2 separate regions of the Homo sapiens genome follow, and region 2 is linked to region 1. Evidence: fine-mapped expression QTL. A gene starts in region 1. The other region holds a variant in brackets. All regions are shown on one strand. Distances are between the middles of the regions. Region 1 holds the start of SATB1 (SATB homeobox 1). Region 2 overlaps SATB1 (SATB homeobox 1).

Evidence for each region.
Region 2: its variant is fine-mapped to the expression of SATB1 in whole blood (INTERVAL, PIP above 0.99).

What each region holds. Positions count from the first base shown.
Region 1 is chr3:18,422,898-18,428,279 of GRCh38, reverse strand. SATB1 (SATB homeobox 1) reads left to right here and starts at 2,941. Exons shown (of 11, transcript NM_002971.6): 1 at 2,941-4,653.
Region 2 is chr3:18,383,614-18,388,995 of GRCh38, reverse strand. It overlaps SATB1 (SATB homeobox 1), which reads left to right. Exons shown (of 11, transcript NM_002971.6): 8 at 2,385-2,597. Among named protein-coding and RNA genes, the nearest start is that of SATB1, 39 kb to the left of the region's middle. The variant C/A (reference allele first, on the strand shown) is at 2,564.

The DNA.
Region 1 (5,382 bases):
GGAAGAGAGCCCTGAGCTAGCATACTCAAGCCCCTTGCCATGTAATATCCAGTGCCACCACAGGACTCTGCAGAGAACTCCCACTAGGAAGAAGGCCCTCACCAGATGAGGCCCCTCCACCTGGAATTTCTCAGCCTCCACAGTGTAAGAAATAAATTCCTTTTCTTTATAAATTACCCAATTTCAGGTATTCTGTTATAAGGAACAGAAAACAGACTAAGACAAATTTCTTTCTTTTTTTGTTATTTATTTTTATCTGGCTTTACACTGGCCAATACTCAGTGGCTTATAATGAAATATTCTAAAGGGTAGTTAATATATAGTAATTAATTTCATCAGTGATGTATACCACTAGTACATTAACCTCTATGTGCCATTTTACTTATGTCATTTCTTATAGTTCTGGAATAAAAAATGTGCTTGAGGGAAAGTTTATTGTGCTATATTGTTATTCATTATAATATAGTCATTCTTAGATGCCTTTATGCTCATTTATTCTGTTTATCATTTTCCAAGGCCATGTCAGTCCTTATTACATACTTTCATGTTTTGTGTTTTTGAATAGATTTGTGACTCAGATAAAAGGTGCTATTCAAATTTAAGGATTGCTGTATTAATTCCCATATTATATTAGCATTCACCAGGTCATTAGGAGGGTAAAACATTCAGATGGCATTTTGTCTTATTTATTTCTGTAAAATGATGTAATAAGCATGTTTACAATATTTTATTTCAGTCTATCTTAATATTGATATTTCCCGTGATCTTTGTTTAGTGGTGTTTTCTCTTAGTTTAAATTTTATTTTGCCCAACAGCTTTCTTTTCTTTTATAAAAAACATTCAGCTTGAGGTGACATTGCCTGGCTAAATTACATTTGTGTGTGTGTGGACCACTATAATTTTTCTTTATTTTTAAATGTTGCTATTGTTTGTAAATTTGTACAACAAGGCACTAGAGTGCACAGTCCCTACTGAAAACAAGGCAGGTTTCAGGGAAACATGTCAGGCATTACTAGTTTGAAGCAACTATTAAAGTATCCATATTGGAAATTTCAAATTTAACCTACCATATTTCTATTTCTTATACTTTAGCTAACATATCTTCCTTCAGATTTCCCCACATTTTAACTTTTAAAAATTTACTATCATTTGGGCTTTTTACTAAAAATTTGCCTTAAATTTCTTTTCCTATTTTTGATGCTGTGTTTTCTGTTTATCACATGTTCATTCTTTTGCTCAAGGCTTGGGTTTGTGTGCCAAGATTCACGGTTGCCTTCCCAGATTTGGCTAACCTTTCTGGTTTGTGGGTGAAACGTGGGTGCTATTAGAGTGATATATTTTCATTTTGTTTCTCCTAAACTTACTCTCCCCTAGGAGGCCATCATTTCCTACACTTTTCTGCTTTACCTTTTGGCTTTTCTTTAGATTTGTAATGTAAACAGTGTGCCTAAGAGTGTATTGGTGGCTTTACAGAGCTTAATTTGCAAATTTCCCTTTTATCTCAGTACTTGTGCTAACTTGTTGCTTTTTTATGTGTAACAAAATGTTTATCTGACTGATTTTTCTCTTTTCCCTACCAGCAAATTCTGAAAAATAATTCTTGTTTTTTGTTAATGATTAACTGCCTTCAGGGTGCTAAAATGGTAGAACTAAAACCTAAGCGATAAATGAGGCATTTCTATTTTGGGTTACATTGTAATATTCTTTATTTTTACATGAACTATATTTAATAGATTGTCTAAATAATAGGATCATACTTATGTGGTAATGACCATTTATCTAACTGGGTAACCTACCCTAGATTACAGCAGAAGTGTTTATTGCTACAACAGATGTATTTACCAACCCAAACTTTCCTCTTTTGCCTAGCGTAAATTATTTGAAGAATGATGGCATCTTTTCCTTTATAATAACAAGTCAGGTCTCTTTCAAGTGACCCAAATTTTGTTTAACTCGGCCACGTATTTCTTCTTCCAAAGTATTCTATGGCTCAGAAGTGAGGGCGATTTGAACCAACGTCTGACTAGTACAGAACGCTCTTACTCAGTTCTTTCTAATGTTGGCTCCTCATAGTTTAAGGACCACCCTCCTTAGAGGATAAACATTCCGAGCGTTTCGAGGCTCCTGGCCTTTATTGCTGTACACGTTTCTGCACCCTCCGCGCTTCCCCGGAGAGAACTGCCTTCCGTCTGTACCCCTCCAGCCACTTCCTGATGGCTCCCTACCTCATTCCTCAGCGCCTGTCACCTGCGTACCCGCGCCCTTCTCCCACGGGGCCGGTGCGTCTCCCTGTCCCCCCACCTCGCCTGTCCCTCTGCGACGCTCCAGGCGTACTCCTTTTTGTGGCTTTTGTGGCGTGTGGGTGGTTGGTTAGTTTTCTCCCCTGGCCCTCGCCCCCTCCTCCCCGTCATTTTCCTTCCCCCCGCCCCCCGTGCCCGTCCTGCCCGTCCTGCCCCTCCTCCCTCCCACTCACACACCTGCCCCTGCCGCCCGCGCGCCGCGCGCTCCCCTCCCCGCTCCGGCGGACGCTGCCAGGGAAGCCCCCTCTCCTCCTCCCCTCTGCGCCCTCCCTGGCGCGTCTGGCGGCGGCCGGCGCTAGCCCTCGCACAGCGCCCTGTTATTCTGGGTATTGTGTGTAATAAATGTCGGGCCGCCTCACTCTAATCAAGCTCATTACAAATTCTTGCGCGCCCGGGGCCGGAAATCGTGCGCTCCCCCCATTCCCTCACTCATTCACTAGTTACTTGTCTTTCGGCTTTTTAACTCGCCGCCCCCGCCCCCTCCCCCAATCCCGGCCCTCCAGCCCGGGTTTTAATCCCCATCCCTTTTCCGCCCGCTCCGTGCACCCTGCCCCCCCACGCCGCCTTCCTCCTCGGCTCCGCACCCCCTTCCTCCTCTCCTCCCCCCTCCTCCTCCTCCGCCGCCGCCGCCGCCGCCGCCACTTTCTCGCTCGCTCCCGTTCCCCGGACGCGGCGGATGAGCCGGCCCCGCTGGGGAAGGCTCCGGGCGGCGGCGGGCGGCCGGGAGGAGGCTGCGTGCTCGGGGCTGGGGCTGCGAGCGGGGTGATTTTGTATTAAAATGAGGAGGAGGAAGAAGAGGCACCCACAGCGGCAGCGGCGGCGGCGGCGGCAGCAGCAGCAGGAGCAGCGGCGGAGAGGGCTGCAGCCCGGGCGGACGCGCGGAGCCGAGCGGGGCACGGCGGCGGCAGCGACAGCGGCCGGGATGAGTCAACTAATAATTTAATGGGGGCAGAGACGGCAGCGAGGGGTAGAGCTAGCGAGGGAGAGAGCGAGAGAAGCAGCCCCGTCCGGGGACTCGCGCTCACACTCACGCACACACACAAACACACACACACCTCTCCCTGTGCCACCCAGCAACACCCGGCCTCGTCACAACAACAACAGCCGCGGCCGCCCTCTATCCTGCCCGGGGGCCCAGCCGAAAGCCAGGGCGACTCTAGAGGACGCTGCCCGCCCCCCTCTTTCATTTCGGGAAACTCCTGATCAGTTTTGTCGGGGTTTCTGGGTTTCTTTTCCCCCAAAGTCCTAGTGCCATTGTGGTGCTCGTTGTTTACCTCGGACTCTGGACGAGTGAGAGCTTGGCGACTTTTTGGGGGGAGGGGGCGGGGAGTTTGTCGCTGCCTAGGCGGTGGAGGTGGCTGGGGGTGCCTTCTGATCTTCCTCCTCCTCCCCCTCCCCCCGAACCTCTTCTCTCCTCACTTGCTGGGACCCCAGACGCTCACAGCCCCGCGTCAATGGGCAGGGAGAGGGTCCTTGCGGCTGTTGTCAGCGAGGGCAGAATCAAAAGTGGCATTTTAGTGCCTTTCCGGGGCTTTTCTCGCGACCCCCTGCCCCCCACCCTCGCTGTCCCCCGCTAGATGCCCTCGTTGGGGGTGCGAGGCTGTGGGGAAAAGTTTAAGGTTTGTTAATATTAGTCGCGATTGTTGGCGAGGGGGGTGGGGGTGATTGGAAGGGAGGCGAGGTGGCCTTCCCAATGCGCGTTATTCGGGGTTATTGAAGAATAATATTGCAAGTGACAGCCAGAAGTAGACTTTCTGTCCTCACACCGAAGAACCCGAGTGAGCAGGAGGGAGGGAGAGACGCGAAGAGACCTTTTTTCCTTTTTGGAGACCTTGTCCGCAGTGATTTTTTTTTTTTTAAGAGAATCCTCAGTCACCACGTCGTTTCCCCAGCACCATCACAGTGTACAGCTCATAACGGGTTTTGCTTTGTTTTTACGATTTCCCCCCAACGAATCACTTGTCAGATCAATTTTATCTTCTTCCTCCTCCCTGCTTCCCACTCTCCCCTCCTCCCCATCGCAAACCCTGTTCTCTGAGGTTAGACATTTTACAAACCCCTATATGTTGGTTTTCGAATTGTGATTTTTTTTTTAAACCCCTTTCTCATGGCTACTCTTCTAGACGTTTATTTCTGCCCTTCCCCCGCTTAGGGGGGCGGGGGTAGGGGAAAGGAAAATAATACAATTTCAGGGGAAGTCGCCTTCAGGTCTGCTGCTTTTTTATTTTTTTTTTTTTAATTAAAAAAAAAAAGGACATAGAAAACATCAGTCTTGAACTTCTCTTCAAGAACCCGGGCTGCAAAGGAAATCTCCTTTGTTTTTGTTATTTATGTGCTGTCAAGTTTTGAAGTGGTGAGTTTCAGGTCGGTTTTGCTAATTTCACTCAGTAAAACTGCAGTGTTTCTGTTTCTAGATAGTACTTTGCTTCTTTGTCTCTTTAAAAGGTCACAGTGAAAGCTTGGCCTGGATCGTGCCGGCCATATGGAATGGATAAGGGCACAATCTTAAAATGTGATTATGGGGTTGTGTGGGGGCGAAGGAGGCGATCCAGCTAGAAACTCATTGAAAAGGATCTCGCTTTGCAAAAAATCGGTTCCTAAAAAACTAGAATTTCGAGATTTTCTTTCCTTTTAAAGGAAATAATTGTTGTTACTGAGTTCACTGTTTTATTCAGTAATTATCATATATGGTCTTAGTTTATGGGCAGATAAATGGGATTTTCAGAAAGTAGCTTGCTTTCTGTGTGGCAACCAGACATTGCACTAAAATGGGTTGTAACGTGTAACTCAAAAGAAACTCTTCAGCCTGGCATCTGTTGAGACCATAGTTAGTTCCTGCTGCTGTCATCCAAGCAGGCCTGTTGGAGGTTGCTCTTTTCAATCCCAAACTGAGGTTTGGTGAACTTTAGCCCGGGCATAGAGTTAAAATGAGTAAATTGGGTGTTTTATGCGCATTTAATTTTGGTTTGTAATGTAAAGCTTTTTACACCACGACTTAGTGTTTAATAGATGCTTATAGGTGGGTATTCAAAGGACAGTTTTTCATGACCTATATGATACTTTAGATTGTCAATACATTAAA
Region 2 (5,382 bases), 39 kb after region 1:
AACCATATGGAAATGACTTAGTCTTATATGTTAGCAAGACTTGAGAAAGAATATTATTTTGTATGTTTTCCTGTATTTGACTTTCTCACTATAGATCTCTGCTGCCTCAGGAAATATTTTTGATAGAAATATGTGATATAGTACTTTGTTATTTGGGATTTTTAAATACCTAATTTCAAGTTTCCCAAATAACATCCTAAATATTTATAACTATGTTTTGCCCTAATCTAATTTTTTTAATTATTAGACAATTAGGAAAAACATCTCAAAAAATGCCACAGAACTTTTCACTGTAGGCCCAACATGAGTGCTAATAACTACTACTAGAATTGACTCATGGGTAACACATCTTGTTCTTAAGTTTCTATCACCTGTTTGTGATTGTTTTCTCCATTGTGGTCTTTATACACATGATCAGTCCATTTAGTAAATACTTATCAAACATTTACATGAGAGACATTGTGCTGGGATGATGAAAGTGAATATTAGATTATTATGCTCAAGGAATTTGTAGCATATTGTGTTTATACTGATGTTTTCATGTATCCATATCTGTGTAGTTGAGAATATATTGCTTTGTCAAGTACATTTTTTAAGACATAACATTTGGTGGAGAGGAGTAAAGAGCAAGGGTTATTTCATTACACCTATTTTCAAACTTTTTTTTTTTGAGACCTGAATGTTTTACTTTCAATATGGCACATCAGAAACACAGTCAAACTAATTAGGTGGCCTTGTGCAAATTAAATAGCTGGATGATTGACTGCCTGTTTGACTGAATTTTAGTTAAATTGACTAGATGTTTTGCTCTTGTGTAGACACAGTTACAGCATTACTCGTTAGTATCCTAAGGACACATGCCCTTCATTCTTCAGTCACATTTCTTAGGGTAAAAACGAAAGTTCAGGTCCAATTTCCAGGCTTTAGCTGTAAGAGACTAAGTGAGAGACAACTTTAAAATGGACTCTGAAGCCCTCTGCACCTGTTAAAAGTTCTTTTTAAATACCAGCTTATAAATCATTTTAAGAAGTATCAGTACTTTTGTATTGTCTGCACCCAACTGTTGCATTTCGGCAACATGGTACATTATCTTTAAATTTGGGAACAAAACCAGGTTTGTACTTCTAACAAACCATGAAAAAAACAAATGTTTTAACCTTGGGGCTTCATTGTTTTGACATGACACGTTACCTTCCTTCCCCCAATATACCTTTAACTGTTTCTGCAGGATATTGGAAAGTAGATTTGCAAATTATATAGAAATCCTGACAAAATTTTATTCTGAAGCTGATACTCTGGCTAAGTGAAGAAACCAAATATGTCTTACTATTCCAAGCATTATTTCATGTACAAGATTAAAGAGAGAAGAGCTGCTTAGCCCTTATAAAATGAACAGAAAATTTTCCAATTCTTTTATTTCATATTGTCTCTTAAATGCAATGGGGAGAACCACCCATTTTTGAAAGAGTTCTTCCAAAAGTTAAAAAAATTAGTTGAAAATTGATGTTCTGTTATTTAGGGGGGAAAGACACCTTAAGAGTTTTCTAATGATTTATAAATTTCTTCTATCACTAACAATTTTTATTCCCCAAGAAATTTGATAATTACAGAATTTGATACTCTTTTCCTTGGCATGCTGTGATGGACTTTCGCAATGTTGAAAATTAGTTAATATATTTCAAATCTTGTCTATGGTTTTTAAAGTTCAAAATTTAAACCTGTTACCCAGTGGTATAATACAGCAAGATAGTATTTAGAATCATTTGTGATAATCAGTGAGGTTCTCTGAAAATGGTAAATTGAAAGGGTCACGTAGTGTCATGTACTTTGATAAGTCAGAGTTTAAGGAATAATTTTAAACATTGCCTGTGAAAATACAGCATAAACCTTAGGTGATGCTTTAGTAATAACCTTTGTTCTAATATGTTAAAATTCATTTTCTGGTATTTTCTTTGAAAGTTCTACTTCTCTAGAAATGGCTTTGTATCTTTACATATTGGGCTGTAGGCATTACACTGCCTTTGTCTAGGCAGCTTGGGAACTATACAGTTCAGTGCTGTTGCATTATAAGGATTTCGTTTATTCTTAACTTCCCTGGATCGTCTCTCTGTGAAAGATTTCATGGCAAGTTAAGCTACTCAAAGGAAGGAGACCAATTAGGCAGTTTCAGTTTATGTTATATGTAAAGCAGATGCTTAATAAAATTAAGAATACAATTGAGGCTCTCTTCTCTACCACTTCAGTTGTAACTAATATATTCCTATGCAGAATTAATGCCTCTGACTGTTCATTTTCTAAACAGAGTGGAGAAGAAAAGGGAAGGATCACTGCTGGCCAGGCAAAGCAAGGCAGCAGGCTCACCCTGTGCCTTTCATTTCTTGCAGGGCTTGCTTTCAGAAATCCTCCGAAAGGAAGAGGACCCCAAGACTGCATCCCAGTCTTTGCTGGTAAACCTTCGGGCTATGCAGAATTTCTTGCAGTTACCGGAAGCTGAAAGAGACCGAATATACCAGGACGAAAGGGAAAGGAGCTTGAATGCTGCCTCGGCCATGGGTCCTGCCCC[C/A]CTCATCAGCACACCACCCAGCCGTCCTCCCCAGGTGCGGTCTCCTTTTCCTCCTTGCCCTTCTTTGTTTAGCTTTTTTTTAATGCTTGAGGAAGAATCTCAATAAGAAATTAGATAGATAGATACATAGATTTATATGTTTTTAAATTCGTATAGTTGCTTGAGGAGAATTTGGTCCCAAATCATTAATTCTGATATAAAAACAATAAGCTCCTAATTAGATAGAGGGAAGAAAATTGCTTTGTGTTCCTTCATTCTTTGGGTTATTTGGGGGTGAAAGTAGTCTTTAAATGGGATATTTGTCTCTACTGTTGTTATTAAGTAAAGTATTTTAAACTCAATAGAAAAAGAATAAAGTCAGTTTTTTCCCAACTGGTTTCAGAATCGCCATTTGAATAGTAAATAAATAAAAATAAATAATTTCATTTGTATTTATACTTTCCAGTACGAACTGCAGCTGGTACCAATTACACACCATCTCATTTGTAATCTTTCATAATTAAGTTTAATAAAATCCTTGAAGGCAGCTTTAAATGGGGCTGATAAGGAATTCTATCCATACTCCAAGATACGGGCATGTTTTCTCTTTCTTAAAATTTTTGGACTTTTTAGGAAAGAAAGTTGCCTTCCGGGTAACTTTGGGTATGTGAATCTGTATTGTTTTTTAAACTAAGTTTTAAAAGTAACCTCATAACTGTTATAATTCAGTAAATCAATTTGCATTACAAACCCTTAGATAAAAGTTTGCTAGTTAGTGTATTAGACTCAAAAACCACAAGCAAATATATTATCTTTTTTTTTTTTTCTTTTGAGATGGAGTGCCGCTCTGTCACCCAGGCTGGAGTGCAGTGGCACGATCTTCACTCACTGCAAGCTCTGCCTCCCGGGTTCACGCCATTCTCCTGCCTCAGCCTCCCAAGTAGCTGAGACTACAGGCATCTGCCACCACGCCCAGCTAATTTTTTTGTGTTTTTAGTAGAGACGGGGTTTCACCGTGTTAGTCAGGATGGTCTCCATCTCCTGACCTCATGATCCTCCCACCTCGGCCTCCCAAAGTGCTGGGATTACAGGCCTGAGCCACCGCGCCCGGCTGCAAATGTGTTTTCTTACATGTTTAACTTGTGACATTTACAGCTCTTAAAAATAAGGTCAGTTAAAATTGGATAAAAATTGAACATGGAAGAAAAAGTCGAAATATTCATATGACAATCTCATAGTGAAATTGTATCTCGATTTTACTTCATTCTCATCAATGGTAGAAAGTGGTTATACATTTTCATGTATAGAAATCTAGAAAAAACTCATTCAACACTAAAGAGTGAAAGTACTACGGATACTGCATAAATAAGAAATATTTAGCCACTTGTTGAGTAGCTAAATAAACTGCTTATCATAAGGTTCTGAAACTATTACTTTTTAGAAATGTCACAAAATCCATTTTCACTAGTTTATTTAATGAAAATCAATCTGGTCTTGATGTCTATAGGAACAGACTATAAGGAAATCATTGCTATAATTGTGAATAAAAAAGTCATGCTTCTTTAGGAGAAAAGCATGGCATCTATATACGTATGTACACACCCACCTGCCCACGCACACAAAGTTATTGAATTTGATCTCTAAATGCTTCTATAAAATATTTCCTAAGATAAAGAATGAGGAACTCTTTATGTATAAAAAATATGACTTCTAAGTATGGTTAAAGAGAAAAGATAAACTATGACTTCTAGGAATGATAAAAAAGAAAAAATATACGAAATGAAATAAAATAATTTGGTTTGGTACTTTTTCTGTAGTGTTTAGTGTTAATACACACACTTTTATTAGTTAACTTTGCTCCTGAAGTCACCACTGACAGGGCTCTGAGCAGAGAATTACTTTACTTATCACTTAATCTGCAATACTAATAAAAGAATGGCTTACTTAAGACCAATATGAACTTCAACATTGAACTGCTTTAAAAAAAAAAAAAAACATCTAGCCAGATATTTGACTTTGTGGTTCCTTAATACAGCTTTTGTTTTCTAATTTTTCTAGGACTCTGGTTTTATTTATTTTCCAAATGTGATTTGGGTGTCCTTACTCATCAAGCTTTTTCTTGAGCTAAAGTTATACCAATTCTTATTAAGTGATATTTCTTTTCATATGCTGTTAAGATACTATAGGATAACTTTCCTGTATGTATGCTTAAAGGCTTTATCTGCTGATAAGTTGGGATAGAATATATGTTTAATTTATTTTTGCCTGAATTATTGGTTAACTGGTTGTGCCACCCTTAGCTGTATTTGTTTGTTCTGAAGAGGAGCTGAGACCAAGCCCATAGCTAGGGTATTCAGCCAATGATGAAAATATACAGTATATACATACTGTAGATTCTTAGTGAAACTCTTTCAAATAAAACATTTCTATTACTGCAGTATTACTGGCCATCTAACCAAACTCCAAAATGACTAACTGATATGTGTATGTGTGTGTAATTTTATTTTGCTGCTGCAATATAAATCTTTAAATTATTAATATTATTATAATGGAGATCACTACCAGTTTGTTCACATTCTTCCCTTTAACCATGATTAAATGAATTAAATTTTAAGAAATCTTAAGGTATTAAAGGTATTATCAATGCAAAATTAGTACTTTAGATTTGGAAAAACACGTTATAGAGCACTTGAATTAGTGCTGTCTTGTAGCAGTTGAAATAATGAAATGATGCTTAAACTGGAACCAGTATGCATATTAAAAATGAGTTAAAATAAAGGATAAAATGGAGAAAACCACAGATAACACAGACTGCAAAATTTTGTCTTTTTAAATTTTAC